3 separate regions of the Homo sapiens genome follow, and all the other regions are linked to region 3. The links come from fine-mapping of genetic effects on gene expression. A gene starts in region 3. Each other region holds a variant in brackets. All regions are shown on one strand. Distances are from middle to middle.

The links. PIP is the estimated chance that this variant, and not a neighbour inherited with it, causes the effect. A credible set is the group of variants that fine-mapping cannot tell apart.
Region 1: its variant is the best candidate, but not a certain one, in a credible set for the expression of SDC3 in whole blood (TOPMed, PIP 0.56).
Region 2: its variant is the best candidate, but not a certain one, in a credible set for the expression of SDC3 in tibial artery (GTEx, PIP 0.79).

What each region holds. Positions count from the first base shown.
Region 1 is chr1:31,126,151-31,131,656 of GRCh38, reverse strand. No RefSeq gene overlaps it. Among named protein-coding and RNA genes, the nearest start is that of PUM1, 63 kb to the right of the region's middle. The variant T/C (reference allele first, on the strand shown) is at 2,315.
Region 2 is chr1:30,869,845-30,875,350 of GRCh38, reverse strand. SDC3 (syndecan 3) reads left to right here. Exons shown (of 5, transcript NM_014654.4): 4 at 763-1,054; 5 at 1,974-5,506. The coding sequence ends at 2,140. Among named protein-coding and RNA genes, the nearest start is that of SDC3, 36 kb to the left of the region's middle. RefSeq lists an enhancer at 3,944-4,815. The variant G/A (reference allele first, on the strand shown) is at 3,246.
Region 3 is chr1:30,906,320-30,911,825 of GRCh38, reverse strand. SDC3 (syndecan 3) reads left to right here and starts at 3,068. Exons shown (of 5, transcript NM_014654.4): 1 at 3,068-3,377. The coding sequence starts at 3,240. RefSeq lists a silencer at 3,024-3,113.

The sequences.
Region 1 (5,506 bases), 220 kb before region 3:
AGTAGAGACACTGTTTTGCCATGTTGCCCAGGCTGGTCTTGAACTCCTGAGTTCAGGTGATCCACCTGCCTCGGCCTCCTAAAAAATGCTGGGATTGTAGGCATGAGCCACTGTGCCCCACTGATTATGTTCTTTTTTAAAAAATTTACAGGCCGGGCGCGGCGGCTCACGCCTGTAATTTCAGCACTTTGGGAGGCTGAGGTGGCTGGATTACCTGAGGTTAGGAGTTTGAGACCAGCCTGTCCAACGTGGTGAAACCCCATCTCTACTAAAAATACAAAAATTAGCCAGGCATGGTGGCGTGTGCCTATAGTCACAGCTACTCGGGAGGCTGAGGTGGGAGAATTGCTTGAACCTGGGAGGCAGAGGTTGCAGTGAGCCGAGAAAGCGCCACTGCACTGCAGCCTGGGCGACAGAGTGAGACTCTGTCTCAAAAAAAATTTTTTTTTTAATTGGGCCGGGCATAGTGGCTGGGTTCAAGCAATTCTCTGAGTTCAAGTTCTCTGGGGTCAAAGAAGTTTGTTCTTTGTTTTGCATGTAGAGATGCTTTTAAAAAGCTAAAAAACGCCGGGCACGGTGGCTCACATCTGTAATCTAAGCACTTTGGGAGGCCGAGGCAGGCAGATCACCTGAGGTCAGGAGTTTGACACCAGCCTGGCCAACATGGTGAAACCTGTCTCTATTAAAAATACGAAATTATCTGGGCGTGGTGGCAGGCACCTGTGATCCCAGCTACTCGGGAGGCTGAGGCAGGAGAATTGCTTGAACCCAGGAGGCGGAGGTTGCAGTGAGCCGAGATTGTGCCACTGCACTCCAGCCTGTCAAAAAAAAAAAAAAAAAAAACTAAAACAGTTTTCTGTGTAAAATCATGTTTGACACACATATAAAACAGGTATTGAAATAAAAATGACAATAGCAATGAAAATTAGAAGAGTTGGAGTTATGTTACAGGAAGATCACAGAAAATAATGCAAAACAACATCGACAGAAAATAGGGCCAGGTATAGTGGCTCACACGTGTAATCCCAGCACTTTAGGAGGCCAAGATAGACTGATTGTTTGAGTCCCTAAGTTCAAGACCAGCTTCGCAGCATGGTGAAACTCTGTCTCTACAAAAAGTACAAAAATTAGCTGGGCATGGTGGCATGTGTCTATAGTTCCAGCTACTTGGGAGGCTGAGGCAGGAGAATCGCTTGAACCTGGGAGGTGGTGGTTGCAGTGAGCAGAGATCATGGCACTGTGCTCCAGCCTGGGTGACAAAACGAGACCATGTCTCAATAAATAAATAAATAAATAAAATAGGGCAGAAATGAGAAAATCAGAGGGCCTGTCTAGGAAGTGTAATATTTCAGTTTCAAGAGTTCCAGAAAAAGCAGAGGAAACAGAGGGAAGGAAATCCTCAAAGAAAACTCAAGAAGTTTAAAGAACATTGGTTTCCATAGGATCTACTAAGTTCCTAGAAAATTGGATGAAAATCGGTTCATGCCAAGGTAACCTGGCAAAAATTTCAGAACAAAGAGACAAAAAGAAGATGTTACAAGATTACAGAGAGAAAAACAAGTTTTCCAATCCTGTGTACAGAAGAAAATATGCTGATGTAAACTGCACAAGCATGCACACACAGAATCTGGCCATTGATGTTAAATCTTTGTAAACAAAAGACACCCATTCTGTTACTAGACAAAAAACAGTATGGGCAAGAATTTTTTTTTTTTTTTTTTTTTTTTTTTTGGATGTAAGTGAAGTTACAGTGAATTCTATTGTTTTATCTGCCCAGAAACTACACCTCACTCTTCTGGGGAATGTTCCTATCCTCCTTTCCCCGACATACACCATGTGTTCCAAATGGGTGCCCCCAAGTCTTACAGGCCCCACCTCCCTGGCCATGTTACGTCAAAGTGTATTTAACCCCAAGATTGCTTAAACCTGGAGCTAGAGAGAATGACTCTGACTTCCAGTTCAGTGGTGAAGATGGGAGACTCTATGGCCACTGGCCACCATGACTCCAGCGTAGGTTTGGAACAATAGAGTTCAGGTGGAAAGAAGCAGAGATGAGAGACTGGGCAGCGTCTGAGACCCTGGATCTAGCCATCCCTGAACCCTTGCAACCTGGACCCTTGCACTTTCCATGGTGATGCCAGTCTTCCAAAAGAAAACAAAATAAAAACCATTTGTCTGATCTGGGTTTCTGTCACTTGAAACAAGTCATGGCTGATACAGAAATGTGAGAAGGCAACTACTCTTGCTTGTATCAAAACTAATTATAACGAACATACTGAGAATTAGGATGCACCAGGCGCTGTCTGAGCACTTT[T/C]GTCTCATGTACTCTGAACTGAAAAGAAACTGAGGAGGCTGGGCGCGGTGGCTCACGCCTGTAATCCCAGCAGTTTGGGAGGCCGAGGCGGGTGGATCACGAGGTCAGGAGTTCTCGACCAGCCTGGCCAACATAGTGAAATCCCGTGTCTACTAAAATTACAAAAATTAGCCGGGCATGGTGGCACATGCTTGTAGTCCCAGCTACTGGGGAGGCTGAGGTAGGAGAATAGCTTGAACCTGGGAGGCGGAGGTTGTGGTGAGCCGAGATTGTGCCACTGCACTCCAGCCGGGGCAACAGAGCGAGACTCCATCTCAAAAAAAAAAAAAAAAGAAAAGAAACAGGACAGAGCAGGTGGGTCACTCATTCATAGTCTGGGGTTTAAGCTCAAGTACATAAAAGACCATCAGAGACCTCCCCTCACTGGGACACTCGCCTCCTGCTCACATCTACTTCACCTACTCCCCCCAGGCCACATCCAGCCCTGCCACTTTGCTCATGAGTTATCTTCTGTGAGACGGTCCTTTCTTCCAGCTCCGGCAAAATCCTATTTGCCCTTCAAGGCCCACTCAAATGTCTCCTGCCCTGCTCCTCTCTAGGCCCCTCATCCACAAATGCAAGTTAAAACCTCGTCTCCTCTGTGTCCTCACTGCATTTGCAAAATATGAAATTGAGAGCGGGCTGGGTGCGGTGGTTCACGCCTGTAATCCCAGAATTTTGGGAGGCTGAGGCAGGCAAATCACCTGAGGTCAGGAGTTTGAGACCAGCCTGGCCAACATGGCAAAACCCCATCTCTACCATAAATACAAAAATTAGCCAGGTGTGCTAATCCCAGCTACTTGGGAGGCTGAGGCAGGAGAATCGCTTGTACTCAGGAGACAGGTTTCAGTGAGCTGAGATCACGCCACTGTACTCCAGCCTGGGAGACAGAGCAAGACTCCCTCTCAAAAATTAATTAATTAATTAAGAGCACAGCTCTGATTTATTTATTTATTTATTTATTTATTTATTTATTTATTTATTTGAAACAGGGTCTCACTCTGTCACCCAGGCTGGAGTGCAGTGGTGTGATCACAGCTCACTGCAGCCTCGATTTCCCGGACTCAAGAGATCCTCTCACCTCAGCCTTCTGAGAAGCTGGGACCACAAGCATGTACCACCATGCCAGGCTGATTTTTGTATTTTTGGTATAAACTGGGTTTCACCATGTTGCCCAGGCTGGTTTCCAACTTCTGGGGTATATCATCCACCTACTTTGGCCTCCCAAAGAGCTGGGATTATAGGCATGAGCCATCACACCTGGCCACCTTACTTTTTCTAAGCCTCAGATTCTCTTTTTTTTTTTGGCACAGGGGATGGAGTTTCACTCTTGTCACCCAGGCTGGAGTGCAATGGTACAATCTTGGCTCACTGCAACCTCTGCCTCCCAGGTTCAAGCAATTCTCCTGTCTCAGCCTCCCAAGTAGCTGGGACTACAGGCATGTGCCACCATGCCTGGCTAATTTTTGTATTTTTAAAAGAGACGGGTTTTCACCATGTTGGCCAGGCCGGTCTCAAACTCCTGACCTCAAGTGATCTGCCTGCCTTGGCCTCCCAAAGTGCGCCCAGCCTCAGATTCTTTATAATGTGGAAATAATGATAGCCCAGCCTTGTAGGATTGCCATGAAGTTTAGATCAGCTACTGTTTGTTAGGCACATAGCGTATCATCAACACGGGCTGGTGGTGCCAGCAATTGATATCTCCGTCTATATTGGGAGTTTTCCCAGTATATTTTTCTGGGGCTTTGTCTCCTCCCCTAGGCTCTGGCTCTTTGAGGGCAGATACCCTATGTGATGATTCAAGTGGCTGCTCGCTTAAGACGTCTCCCCCTGGCTTCCAAGTGATTAGCTTTCCAGTTAGGAATTCAACATTTGAGTCTGGTTAGGTTATTTTAAAAATAGTTCCTGACTGCATGTGAGACGCACCGATCCAGTCTCCTTATAAAAAATGTATGCATTACAGCTAAGGCAAAGATCTCCTATGAGCATCAAACCAATCCCAACCCTTTTAGAGGCTACCACAGCTATCAGTTTGATGTGTTTGATGACTTATTTTTATTGAAGCTACTCAGTATTTAGGTACTTTTAATCTGAAGGCTCATGTCTTTCTTCTATTCTGGAAAAATCCTCAGATCTTATTTCTTAAAGTATTTGCCATCCACCCCATTCTCAACTCCTGGACTGTATGTTAGATGCTCTCAGAATGGCCTCCCTATTTCTTATTTTCTCCCTCTTTTCCTTTTCCTTCCCTTTTCCTTCTGGGTCAATTTCTTAGTACTACATTTTTTCCTGCAATTTTACTATTATCATTATTATTATTATTTTGAGATGGAGTTCCACTCTTGTCATCCAGGCTGGAGTGCAATGGCACGATCTCGGCTTACTGCAACCTCTGTCTCCCAGGTTCAAGCGATTCTCCTGCCTCAGCCCCCTGAGTAGCTGGGATTACAGGCACCTGCCACCATGCTGGCTAATTTTTATATTTTTAGTGGAGATGGGGTTTCACCATATTGGCCAGGCTAGTCTCAAACTCCTGACCTCACATGATCTGCCCGCCTTGGCCTCCCAAAGTGCTGGGATTACAGGTGTGAGCCACCGTGCCTGGCCACAATTTAATTATATTATAATAAAGCAATAAAGAATGTTTCAGAGCCTAGTGATGGATCATTTAGTCTAACATCTCATAACAACTTTGAAAAGCACAAGATATCAAATTTTTTTGTTTTGTTTTGTTTTGTTTTTGAGACAAAGTTTCACTCTTGTTGTCTAGGCTGGAGTGCAGTGGCACGATCTTGGCTCACTGCAACCTCCGCCTCCTCGGTTCAAGTGATTCTCCTGCCTCAGCCCCCCAAGTAGCTGGGATTACAGGCATGCGCCACCATGCCTGGCTAATTTTGTATTTTCTGTAGAGATGAGATTTCACCATGTTGGCCAGGCTGGTCTCGAACTCCTGACCTCAGGTAATCCACCTGCCTCAGCCTCCCAAAGTGCTAGGATTACAGGCGTGAGCCACTGCACCCGGCTGATATCAATGTTAAAATTGTGGCATATAGAAAGTTTAATAAAGAAGGAAATGTGGAGAGTAAAATGTAGTTGTAATCCTATTAAAGGCCTTGTCCATTTTCTTTTTTCGTCTGCCAAGAACAAGCAGAG
Region 2 (5,506 bases), 36 kb after region 3:
GGAGAAGGTGCACAGGGCCCAGGTTGCTGGAGGAGCCATTGTGCACGCTGTGTACGCTGGGGCACTGCTGCAGCCTCTTTTCAGCCTGGACATCAGGCCTGCCTTTCCATGCCCACCTTTGAAGTAGCGACATCCCTGCTCTGATGGCTCCCACAGCCCCCACTTTGGTCTCATCATTCCCAGCTCTGATCCTGCCTCCGAGTGGTGGGAGCCCTAGAGATTGTCAGTCACTGAGCTGGTTTCCGGGACACCTGCCCCTGAGGCCATCATAGTCTGCAGGTTGTGCTCTTGGACTGGCCTCCAGGCTACAGAATGCTCCCCTGCCTTAGGCATGGACTGGGACCAGGCCCACATCCATAGCATCTGCACCCAGCAGTTCCCAAACAGCTTCTCGGCAGGAATCCCCCAAGGATTGTTACTAAGGCAGCTGGAGGGGACATGAGGGGGACAGGATGTCCAGAGCAAGAACAGAGGCAGTGTGTTAGTGGTTAGAAACACAGACTGTGGAGACAGATAGATCTGAATTTTAGTTCTGTCCCCCACTTACTAGCTGTGTGTCCTTGGGCAGGTCATTTATGCTCTGAGCTGACTTCCTGCTCTGTAAACTGGGGGCATTGTTACACTCCTTCATGGGGATAGTGTGTAGCACAGTGCCTGGCATGTAGGGAGTGCTAAGTGTTAGCCCCCCAGGGCAGTAGGATGGTGGTGGGGGGTTATGCATGCATGTGTGGTTGTCCTGGGCTCATGCCACCCTCTCTGCAGACCCCAACTCCAGAGACCTTCCTGACCACAATCCGGGATGAGCCAGAGGTTCCGGTGAGTGGGGGGCCCAGTGGAGACTTCGAGCTGCCAGAAGAAGAGACCACACAACCAGACACAGCCAATGAGGTGGTAGCTGTGGGAGGGGCTGCGGCCAAGGCATCATCTCCACCTGGGACACTGCCCAAGGGTGCCCGCCCGGGCCCTGGCCTCCTGGACAATGCCATCGACTCGGGCAGCTCAGCTGCTCAGCTGCCTCAGAAGAGTATCCTGGAGCGGAAGGAGGTGCTCGTAGGTGAGGCTTGGGGTCTGGGCCAAGGGGAGCCTGGGAGGATACCAGAGTGAGACAGCTGGCTGGGCCTCAGTTTGCCTCTAGGAACCCAGAAAGGAGATCAGGGCGTGGTTTCCTAGGAGCCAGATAGGAAGGAAACTTGAGAACTCAACCCCCCAGGACCTGCCTTCTGGCTCCTCCCAACTTTCCTCCTTCCCAATATCCAACCCTGACTTCATGTCCATCTCTAGGTCTTCCCTCAGTGTCCTCTGACCCCTCTGTGGACTCTGACTTTGATCCCTGCTTTCCTGGGCCACACTGGCTGACCCCCTGGGACCTTACTTCCTAGATGCTAATCTCTGACCCATCCTTCAGCTTGACCTTCCCCAGTTTTTGACCCCAGTCCCTGTGGACCTGCCCTGGCCGCATCTAGGGAGTCTGTGGACTCCTGGTTCAAATCCTGGCTTTGCACTCAAGGCAAGGTACTTCACCTCTCCAGTCTTCCTTCTCTTCATCGGTAGAATGGGGATAGTCATTTTGCCCTTAATCAATTCTAAGAGGCACATCTGTTCACATGTTAAGTCTTCTGTAGTTGGGGTATGTCATATTTAGTTAGCAGAGCTTTTTCTTTCCTAGCAGTTATAAAATACTGGGGCATCTTATGAGTGGTGGCATTTTAAATTTGATGAAGCCCTCAGATGACCCCTCCCTCATAGGGCTGGTGTGAGGGTTCAGTGAGTTAGTGTGTTGGGCGATTAGAATGCAGCCAGTGAAGGCCTATGATGGTACCCAGTGCTGGTAGTAGTAGTATTGACTCCATCATCACTCCAACTCAGATCTGGGACTCCCAGCCCTCTCCTCACCCTGGCCCCCACCCCTGAGGACCCTTTGCCCTGGTTCTACCCTGCCTCTGGGCCTTGACCTGTGCCCTCTTCTTCCACAGCTGTGATTGTGGGCGGGGTGGTGGGCGCCCTCTTTGCTGCCTTCTTGGTCACACTGCTCATCTATCGTATGAAGAAAAAGGATGAGGGCAGCTACACGCTGGAGGAACCCAAGCAGGCGAGCGTCACATACCAGAAGCCTGACAAGCAGGAGGAGTTCTATGCCTAGTGGAGCCACAGTGCCTCCCTGCAGCCTCAACACCACCCTGCTGTCCAGTCCCCAGCCTGGCCCCACCAGCCCAAGCCTGGGACTGGGCCTGGAACCTGGCCCCAGTTCTTCTCTGCCCTCTCTCCCAAGGTCTGCCCAGGCTGCCAGCCTCACACAGATCTTCCCCGAGGAAGAGGGGCTGCTGCCATCTGCCCCAGACTGTGCCCTTACGAGCTCATCTCTTGTTCCCCTCATCCCTGCCACCAGTCTGGGGCTTCAGGACCTCATGTCAGATGGATGGGAGGAAGAAAGCTCCTGATTGGCTGGTGGTGGAAGAAAGGGTGGGGCTTGAGATGAGCCTGAGCCCTGACTTGGCACCCACAGTGCTCACTGAGATCTCCTTTTTGGGGCAGAGAGGCACTCAGGCTGGTTTCCAGGACAAACATTTGGTAAACACAGCCCTTGAAATCATCTAGACACTGCAACCTCTTGCTCGTATCCCAGGGCCTCTCTCTAGCTGGGTGAGAGGGTGTCCCTTGTCACCAGCCTGTTTTGTCCTGGTCTCTCTGGGGTTGTTGAATCTCTCCTCTTGCCTGCCAAGTACACATGTACCCAGACTTCATTTCTTTCTGCATCTTCCCCCAAGAAACAGCTTCCTGAGGGTGCTGGGGCAGCCACTGGTGAGGAGGGGCTGCTCTGATGTCCCTCCTATGAGGGGACTCTGCACAGACACCATTGCCCACACTATCACCATATTTTCACTCAGTCACACACAAGACAAAAGCATGCAATGACAAAACCATACGCAATCCTGACCGCCCAGCCAATCAAGACATATCACAGAACACACGCGTCCTTCCAAGAATGTTTATCCTCATGCATCACTTACACACCCCCAGACACGTACTGCAATGCAAGTCACTAGTCATGGTCACATGACAGTGACAGTGTGGCCTCCTCCTACCCCAAATACACCCACACTCTGGCACCACACACATTGTCTCCAGCTTTCAGGCTTACTGGGGAGGGTGGAATCGAGCCAGAACAATCAGCCCATATTGGGTCCCCCTAAGTTGCCCCGTCATACTCAGTCCCATGCCATGGTGCCCACACCAACCATGCAGCC[G/A]CCAACCCCAGCCAGTGTCAGACACAATCCCATGTGGATGCACAGTCTCACTCCACATGACCTGCTCTCAATGCTGGAGGGAAACAGGCAGGCCCTTGCCTTTCTCGGAAAAAGTGTGGGGCCACAGCCCTTTTAGGGCATTGCATGCAGGTGGGCCTGGCTTCACCCCTACCTGCTTCCTCCCCACCGCAGCTGGCAGAGGGGGAGGTTTGGGGCCAGACCCCCACTAGCTGGGAGCCTGGGGGCTCCTCTAAGGCTGAGGAAGGAAATTTGGCCCCAGGTTGTTGGGGGGTCTTGGGTCTCCCAGGACGGAAGGCCCAGGGCAGGGAGGGGGCATGTGGTTGGGCTCCTTTATCTCCCTGTGTCCCCTTCCTGCTTTGAGCTAGGGGGCTGACTCTGCCTCCCAGGACACAAGTCTCCAAAGTGCCTGTGAGGGCGGGCCCTCCGCACCCTCTGCCCTCTGCCTGGCAGGCCAACCTCAGCCCACCTGCCCAGAGGCCCTCCCTGTGGACACCCCCTCACCTATTTGGCCAAACAATTCTGGCTGCAGCTTCAGGGGCCATGGCTGGAAGCAGCCCCTGCAGATCCCTCAGGCCCCGAGGTCAGGGTTTGAGGGATGAGACCAGGTGATAGTGGGGGAGGGGTTACTTCCTTTGTTACCTAGCAAGTAGGGCTATTTCCATCGGTATTTTAAATGTGGGGTCACAGATCTTTTGGGGAGGGTGTGCTTGGCAGGGGGCCTCTTGGAGCCAAAGGGATGTGGTGTGAGTTGCGATTGGCTGGCACTCACACCCCCACCCCTCACCCACATCCCAGATTCAAGTCAGGAAGGCAGGTTTTATTTCAGGGCCCTTTTCAAGATGCCCTGGCAGCAGATTTCTGCAGGATGAGGGGTAGCGGTGTGTAGGCAGTGAGGGGGAGGTTCCAGGGGCTGTCCCACAGCCTGTCTTTTCCAGGCTGGGCTCCATCTTCCAGTCCCAAAACCCTCCTTCACAGGGCCCAGAGGCTTGTGAGGAAGCCAGGTGGACCCAGCCTTAGAAGAGTGGGCATGGGGGGCCCCTGATATCTGGAGGGGGCGGGTTGGCCTCAGTCATCTTTGGAGCAGAAGGGCTGGGTCCTGGGGCCACAGACCACAAGGCTCAGCCTCCCTACCCTGCTCCCTGGGGTGCTGCTGTCTTGGAGAGCACAGCTCTGGTGAGACGGCCTGGGCAGGCCGAGGCTGAGAAACCAGGGAGGATAGAGGAGAAAAGGGCTTGGGCCCCCAGCCCCAGAAGATGCTGGACCCCAGGTGGGAGACCCAACAGTGGGTGCAGTTTCTCAGTAGGGCTGGAGCCAATGGTGGGGGTGGCCCCGGCAGGCCTGGCTCCTCACATCCCAGGGGTTGGCTTCTGATTTGGGGCTTGGGCTCCAGGCACTGGCTTCTCTTCTCTGTGTCCTTAGCATTTGAGAGAAGAGGCCAGGGGCCTTGTTCATGGATCCCTGGACCCAAGGCAGATGTCCAGGCTTTATCCTCCTGAGGATGAGGAGTCTGACCAGCCCAAATCTGCCCTGGCCGGCCTGACCGGGGCAAGGCAGTCCAAGAGAGTTCAGTGAGGACCAGCTAGGCTCTCCCAGGTGCAATGTGGGTGCAGGGCCCTCATGTCCCCCTACCCCTGCCTGTGATGGAGTGTTCTGAGGGGCTTTGGCATTTGCTGGAAGCACAGGGAGTTCCAAATGAGAGGGAGCTTCTGTGGCTTGAGAGCCTCTGGGGCCTTGGCTGCCAGAGCACGAGGCAGGCCAGGACCTGGAGAGCCCAGACCCTGTCTCCAGGAGGCCAGGAGGCCAGATGGGGGCCTTGCCTGAAAGACTGGTCCCCTTGATCGCTGGAGGCATGTGGGTGGCAACCAGGGCTGGGCAGGGCTTAGGGTGTGTGGGCCAAACCCCCCTGGGGTTGGCAAAGCCGCCTGTCAGGCCTCCTGGTGGGGGCCCCTGGACACAGGGAGCAGACCCTCTGCCTCATGGGGTAGGAGTGGCTGCCTCCTGTGTTCTCTGGATTTCTTCTCCCAACAACTACAACCCTGGACTTGCCTCCCCAGGCCTCTTGCCTGTAAATAGAAGCCCGCAAACTGTACAGATTTACAGAGGCATCGAGACTGGGCCCTGGGAGTTGCCATCTGAGAGCCGATGGCCCCAGCATCCCCCAGGTGCCTGCCTGGCACCACAGTGACCCTGGCCTCAGCGTGGCAAATGCATGTAAATATTTTTCGTAGGCAGCGTGGCTC
Region 3 (5,506 bases):
TGACTATTGTGCCAGGAGGCGGCAGCAGCTGGTGCCTGTGGGTGAGGTTATGGTGCTATGAAGGGAGACCCTGAGTATGTGGGGATGTGGCTCCAATGCACAAGGAGGCCTGGGCAAGGGTGACTGTGCAGATGACCCATGTGCTTGAGGGCAGGAAATGTGTGCATCTGTGAACCCCAGGGAGACCTGGGACCCGGGGGGAGCAAGATGAGAAGGACCTTCAGGGGCCCAGACCTGTCTTAGTTCTGGCTGTGACCAGTGTCTTTGAAGAGCAGCAGGTGGCGCTCCTGGCCTGTCCAGACCAAAGATTCTCCACTGCCCCGCCCCCACCTCTTCCCCAGGATGTCAGGGAAGTGGAGTTGCTGCTTCCAGAAGTCTCAGAGCTGGCAGGAACCTCTGAAGATGGGCCATGCTCACTGCCCATCTTACTCATGGAAACCATCCTAATGGTCTCCCTGCTAGATAGTTCTCCGAGCCTTGAATACCTCTCAAGACAGGATACTTACTGCCTCTTAGAATTGCCACTGCTGTCTGTGGCCAGCTGACATCTGGCTCCTCATAATCCCCACCCTAACCCTGCTGGCCCTTTGGGAGCGCCTCAGGGTTGGTATGTTCCTGGGATCTGCTCAGCATCTCTGAAGGATGATGTTATCCCTACATCTGAGTCCCTTCCTTTGTAAGCTTCATTCCCAGCCACCTTCATTGAACTCCATTACGATGGCAGGGAAGAGCTCATGTAATCCTCACAACCTGGTACCTGGCCTGGCACACAGCAGGCACCCAATTTATGCTTGCTAAATGAATGAATGAATGAACTCTGCGTGGTCATTATCTCTATATTACAGTTGGGAAATTGAGGCTCAGAGAGGTTAAGTCACACATCCAACACAATACAGCTCATAACTGGCAGAACTGGGATTTGAACCCAGATACTTGGCCGACCCAGAGCCAGAGCTCTTCAATTCCAAGCTGTGCTACCTCAACAGAAACCAGTTTCCCACCTATTGCACCCCATCAGCCTCCCTGCCCATCTCCCCAAGGTGCCAGTCAAATTTGGATCGAGCATTGATGTCATGCCAAAAGATTTGAGAATTGAATTTTCAGAGGCTGGGACCTCAGAATTCCTAGTTCGAAAGTCTCCCTGTCTTCCCTGTCCAGGATCCCTGTCAAAGGGTGGTGAGCTTGCCTTTCATACCCTTTAGGGACTGGGCTCTCCCTCCCTCCTGGGGAGCCCCTTCTAATTTATCTCTACTTTATGTTGAGTTGACCTTTGTCCCCTGGTCCTCCTCCCAAGGGCCCTGCAGGACAAGTACAGTTACCCCCAACACCAAAAACCCATGGCTGGTCCCCCAGAGTCTCTTCCTCAAGGCCTGCCCCTCCATTCATCCTGGTTTTGGTTCCCCTTTCCTTGAGGGAATTGTTCCAGTTTCAACTCAATTTCGTTCCCCTATTTTCTTTTCTTTTCTTTTTTTTTTTTTTTTTGTTTTTGAGAAGGAGTCTCGCTCTGTCGCCCAGGCTGGAGTGCAGTGGCGCGATCTCGGCTCACTGCAAGCTCCGCCTCCCGGGTTCATGCCATTCTCCTGCCTCACCCTCCTGGTAGCTGGGACTACAGGCGCCCGCCACCACGCCCGGCTAATTTTTTTGTATTGTTAGTAGAGACGGGGTTTCACCATGTTGGCCAGGATCTCCTGACCTCGTGATCCACCCGCCTCGGCCTCCCAACGTGGTGGGATTACAGGCGTGAGCCACCACGACCGGCCTGATTTCATTCCTATTTTCTAATGGCAGGCTCTAAGCTGGGTGCTGGGACACAGGGGCCAGAGAGGAGAGTAACTGAGGGTAGAGACGTCCAGCCAGCTGTCATCAGCAAATAACCTCTTCTTGCTGGCTCTCAGCTTCCCCACCTAAGAAGTGAAGATATTGACAGACCGACCTTATGGGGTTCCTGAGAAATGATATAACACATGAAAGCGCTGGGCACCTGGCATGTGGTCAGGGTTCCAGAAATGTTTCACTCTCCCCTATCTTGCCCCAAAACACTTGGTTTTGAGCCCCAGTAAATGGGAAACACATTCATTGATTCAGCAAATTTGGATTGAGCATCGATGTCATGCCGAGCTCTGTGCTGGTGCTGGGGACATAGCAGTGAACAAGACAGACACAAAACCCTGCCCCCGCTGGAGCTAACACGCCATTGGAGACTTGGAGAAGTAAGAACAGCATGGGGTATGCCGCTGGGGATGAAGGTGAAGGGGGAAAAGGCACCGTGACCACACAGGGTAGAAAGACCACCAGCGCTAGAGACTGCCACTCAGAGATGTACTTTTCTCGCCATCCTGCACTGGAGGGGGTGGTCCCATTCAACCATGGGGGGTCTGAGTCTCAGAGAACTGGGGGCCTTGCTGGAGGCGCACAGCTGGTGTGGAAGCAGCTGCGCTCAGGTCTGCGTGGCTTTTCCTCTGCAGATCCACAGTGACAGGGCCCAGAAGTGACCACCCCCATGGTCCCCTGGGGAGACCGAGGCCCAGAGAGGGCCGGGCCCTGATCTGAGGTCACACAGCCCCTGGGTGTCCTGGAGGCATGAAAGCCCGTGGTCTTGGATGACCTCTGGCCCACTGGGTGGACTGGCTGAGTGTGTGAGGGTGACGATGGGAGTCCAGGAAGAGACACGTGCGTGGAGCCACAGGGGGAGGCTGTAGATGAAAACGCCCATGCGACCCCTCCGCTCGGCGACTTCAGGGAGCCAGGCCCGGGCCCTGGTATCCCACGCGGGACCCTTCCCTTCTACCTAGCACGGCGGCCGCGGAGGTGCGTCCGGCGGGCTCCGCGACCTCCAGCCCCGGGATCGGCGAGGCCGGCTGCTCACTCAGGTGTCCGGGTGCCCACTCGGCAGCGCGGGGCTCCCTCTGGGTGGGGGCGGGGGCTGGGACTGGGGTCAGAGGGCGCGGAGCCCCGCGGGGGGCGCACTGGGGCCCGCCCCGCCCCGGGCCCCTCCTCCGTTCCGCCCGCGCTGGGGGCGGCCCGGCGGCGGCGGCGGCGGCGCACGCTTCCTGCGGGCGCGGCCGCTGTGGGCGCGGAGCTGCGAGGCGGAGCCGGGCGGCCGAGCCGGGAGCCCGCGAGCCTAGAGCGCGTCGGTCCAGCCGCCGGGCCGCGCCGCCGCCAAGCAGCCGCCCCGCGCGCCGCGCCTCGGGAACAAAGGCGCCCGCCCGCCGCCCGCCGCCCGCGCCCGCGCCGCCGCCATGAAGCCGGGGCCGCCGCACCGTGCCGGGGCCGCCCACGGGGCCGGCGCCGGGGCCGGGGCCGCGGCCGGGCCCGGGGCCCGCGGGCTGCTCCTGCCACCGCTGCTGCTGCTGCTGCTGGCGGGGCGCGCCGCGGGGGTGAGTGACACGCGCCCGGATCCCCGCCACGGCTCCCCGGGGCCGCCCCCCGCGCGGGGTGCCGGTCCCCGCCCGCGACCCCCCCTCCGGGACCCCGCTCCCTCCCCCCCGGCTGCTTCCCCCGGGGCCGCGGTCCCTGCCACCCCTCGACCCTCCCCCGAGCGCCCCTTTCTGCACCCTGCTCCCCCCCCTCCGGAATCTCCCCCTAGCTGGCATCCGCGGGGAGAGGCCGCCCCCGCCGCTGGTCATCTTCGGGGGGCGCATCTCTCCTTCCTTTTGGGACCCCTCCCCAGAGGGAATCCCGGGAGGGAACCCGATCGCGGGTCCTCAGCCCTGTTCCCCCACCTCCCAGTGGCTCCGGGAACTGTCTCCCCGGGGACGAAGCGGGACCCCTGCGCTGGCCTGGGAGGCGCGAGAAGGACCCGGCGGCGGGCTGGGGGTCGCCGTCCCGGCTGGGTGTGTCTTGGGGTGGGAGTGAGCCTGGCTTTTGCCTCGTGGGTGTGCCCAGACCATGGCCACTTTTTGGGAATCGGATCGGTTCCCCTTCCGAGGGGAGGGTGTGCATTTGGTTCTTCCCAGGGTCGCGGCAGCCGGCCAGGGCAGTGGGCCCGGGAAGGGGAGGTGGAGGTGGAGGGTGACTTGGTGAAGGTGACCTGAGGGGGGAGTGAGGGTAACCCTGTGTGTGGGCGTGTGTGGGCGTGTGTGGCCAACTCAGTGAGGGGTGCGGGGACCTGTGGGGCGTGTGCAGGTGAAGGATGTGTCTGCCACATGGGTGGATGCCAGCGTGCCCTCCCGTCCGTGGTCGTGGGAGGGTGACCCATTGTGCATGATGTGTGCCTGTGCCTGGCTGGGCCACTGTTGGCTATGGCCGTGTGTGGCTGCAGTGGGTGAGGGTGTGTGTGTGAAAGACCTCTGGTGGGCGTGTGCTTGGACCCATGAATGTGTGTGAGTGCACATAGCAGCGTGTGCATGCAGGTGCATGGGGGACCCTGGACATAGGACGAGGACCCCTGAGGGGAACCAAGCATGTGCAGGTGGAGGTGATGGTATGTATGAGGTGACCCTTGAGTGTCCCTTTGAGTGACCGTAGCAGCCATGCTTGGTCCCAGCTCCGTCAGGGATGGCAGAGAAAGGAAGGACCTCATCCCCCTTTGAGGGATCCAGGCCCCAGATGAGTTCTTGTTGGACAAGTGTCCAGGTTCTGGCTCAGGCGGGCTGGGGATTTCTAGGTCCAGCCTCCCAGGTTGGTTCCAGGAGCTATGCTGTCCTGCATCCCCCAGGCTGAAAAGGACCCAGGCCTCTCAAGCAACACTGGGTGCCCAGCCGCCCTCTGCAAGTTCCTTCCCTTTCCCAGCCTCAGTGGGCCAGTCAGTAAGACAGGAGGAGGACAGGCAGGGGCTCCAAGCTTGCTTCTTGGATGGACAGGCCCCTCCTCAGCCTTCCCCATCTAGGGGGCTGTCAGCTGGAGGGAGGGGAAGTGTTGAGGGCTGACCTGTGTGAAGTGCCTGCTGGCCAGGATGTCTCATTCCCAGCTCTCCCCTAAGTGGGGTGAGAGGAAGAGGTCCCTGGGAGGGATAGAGACCCAGCACACCCTAGCAGCTGGGGTCGCCTTCTCAGCCAAATTTCTGAAAGACCATCCTTAAAATCAAAGGCTTGGGAATCACACAACCCTGGGTTCCAATCCTGCTACCCCCGCCGATTCGTGGCATGGTTTGGGCAGGTCCTCTTACTTCTCTGACCCTTGGTTGTCCCTCTGTGAAATGGGGCTAATGACCCCTTCCTCAGAGGGCAAAAATTCAATGGGATGACTGACGAGTGTCCTGAGAAGGAGCTCAGGAGTCATGTGGTGTGCACATGAATGAAAGGGGCTCAGGACAGAAAGCTTTAGACTTGGAGGCCAGGTGGAGCGCTGGGCAGGCCACTTTCCTTGCTGAATAAGGCTAATAATTCATACTCCACGAGGTGGTGGAAGGACTTAGTGAGAGCATTTAATAGCCTCATGCACAGTAGGGCCTCGCAACACGGGTGACCTGAATCTGAGAGGTGTGGCTCAGACCCAGTGTTGGGTGGCAGATCAAGCAGACCCTGGGAGTCTGAGCCCAGAGGCTGAAATGGTGGGTGGGGCCTGG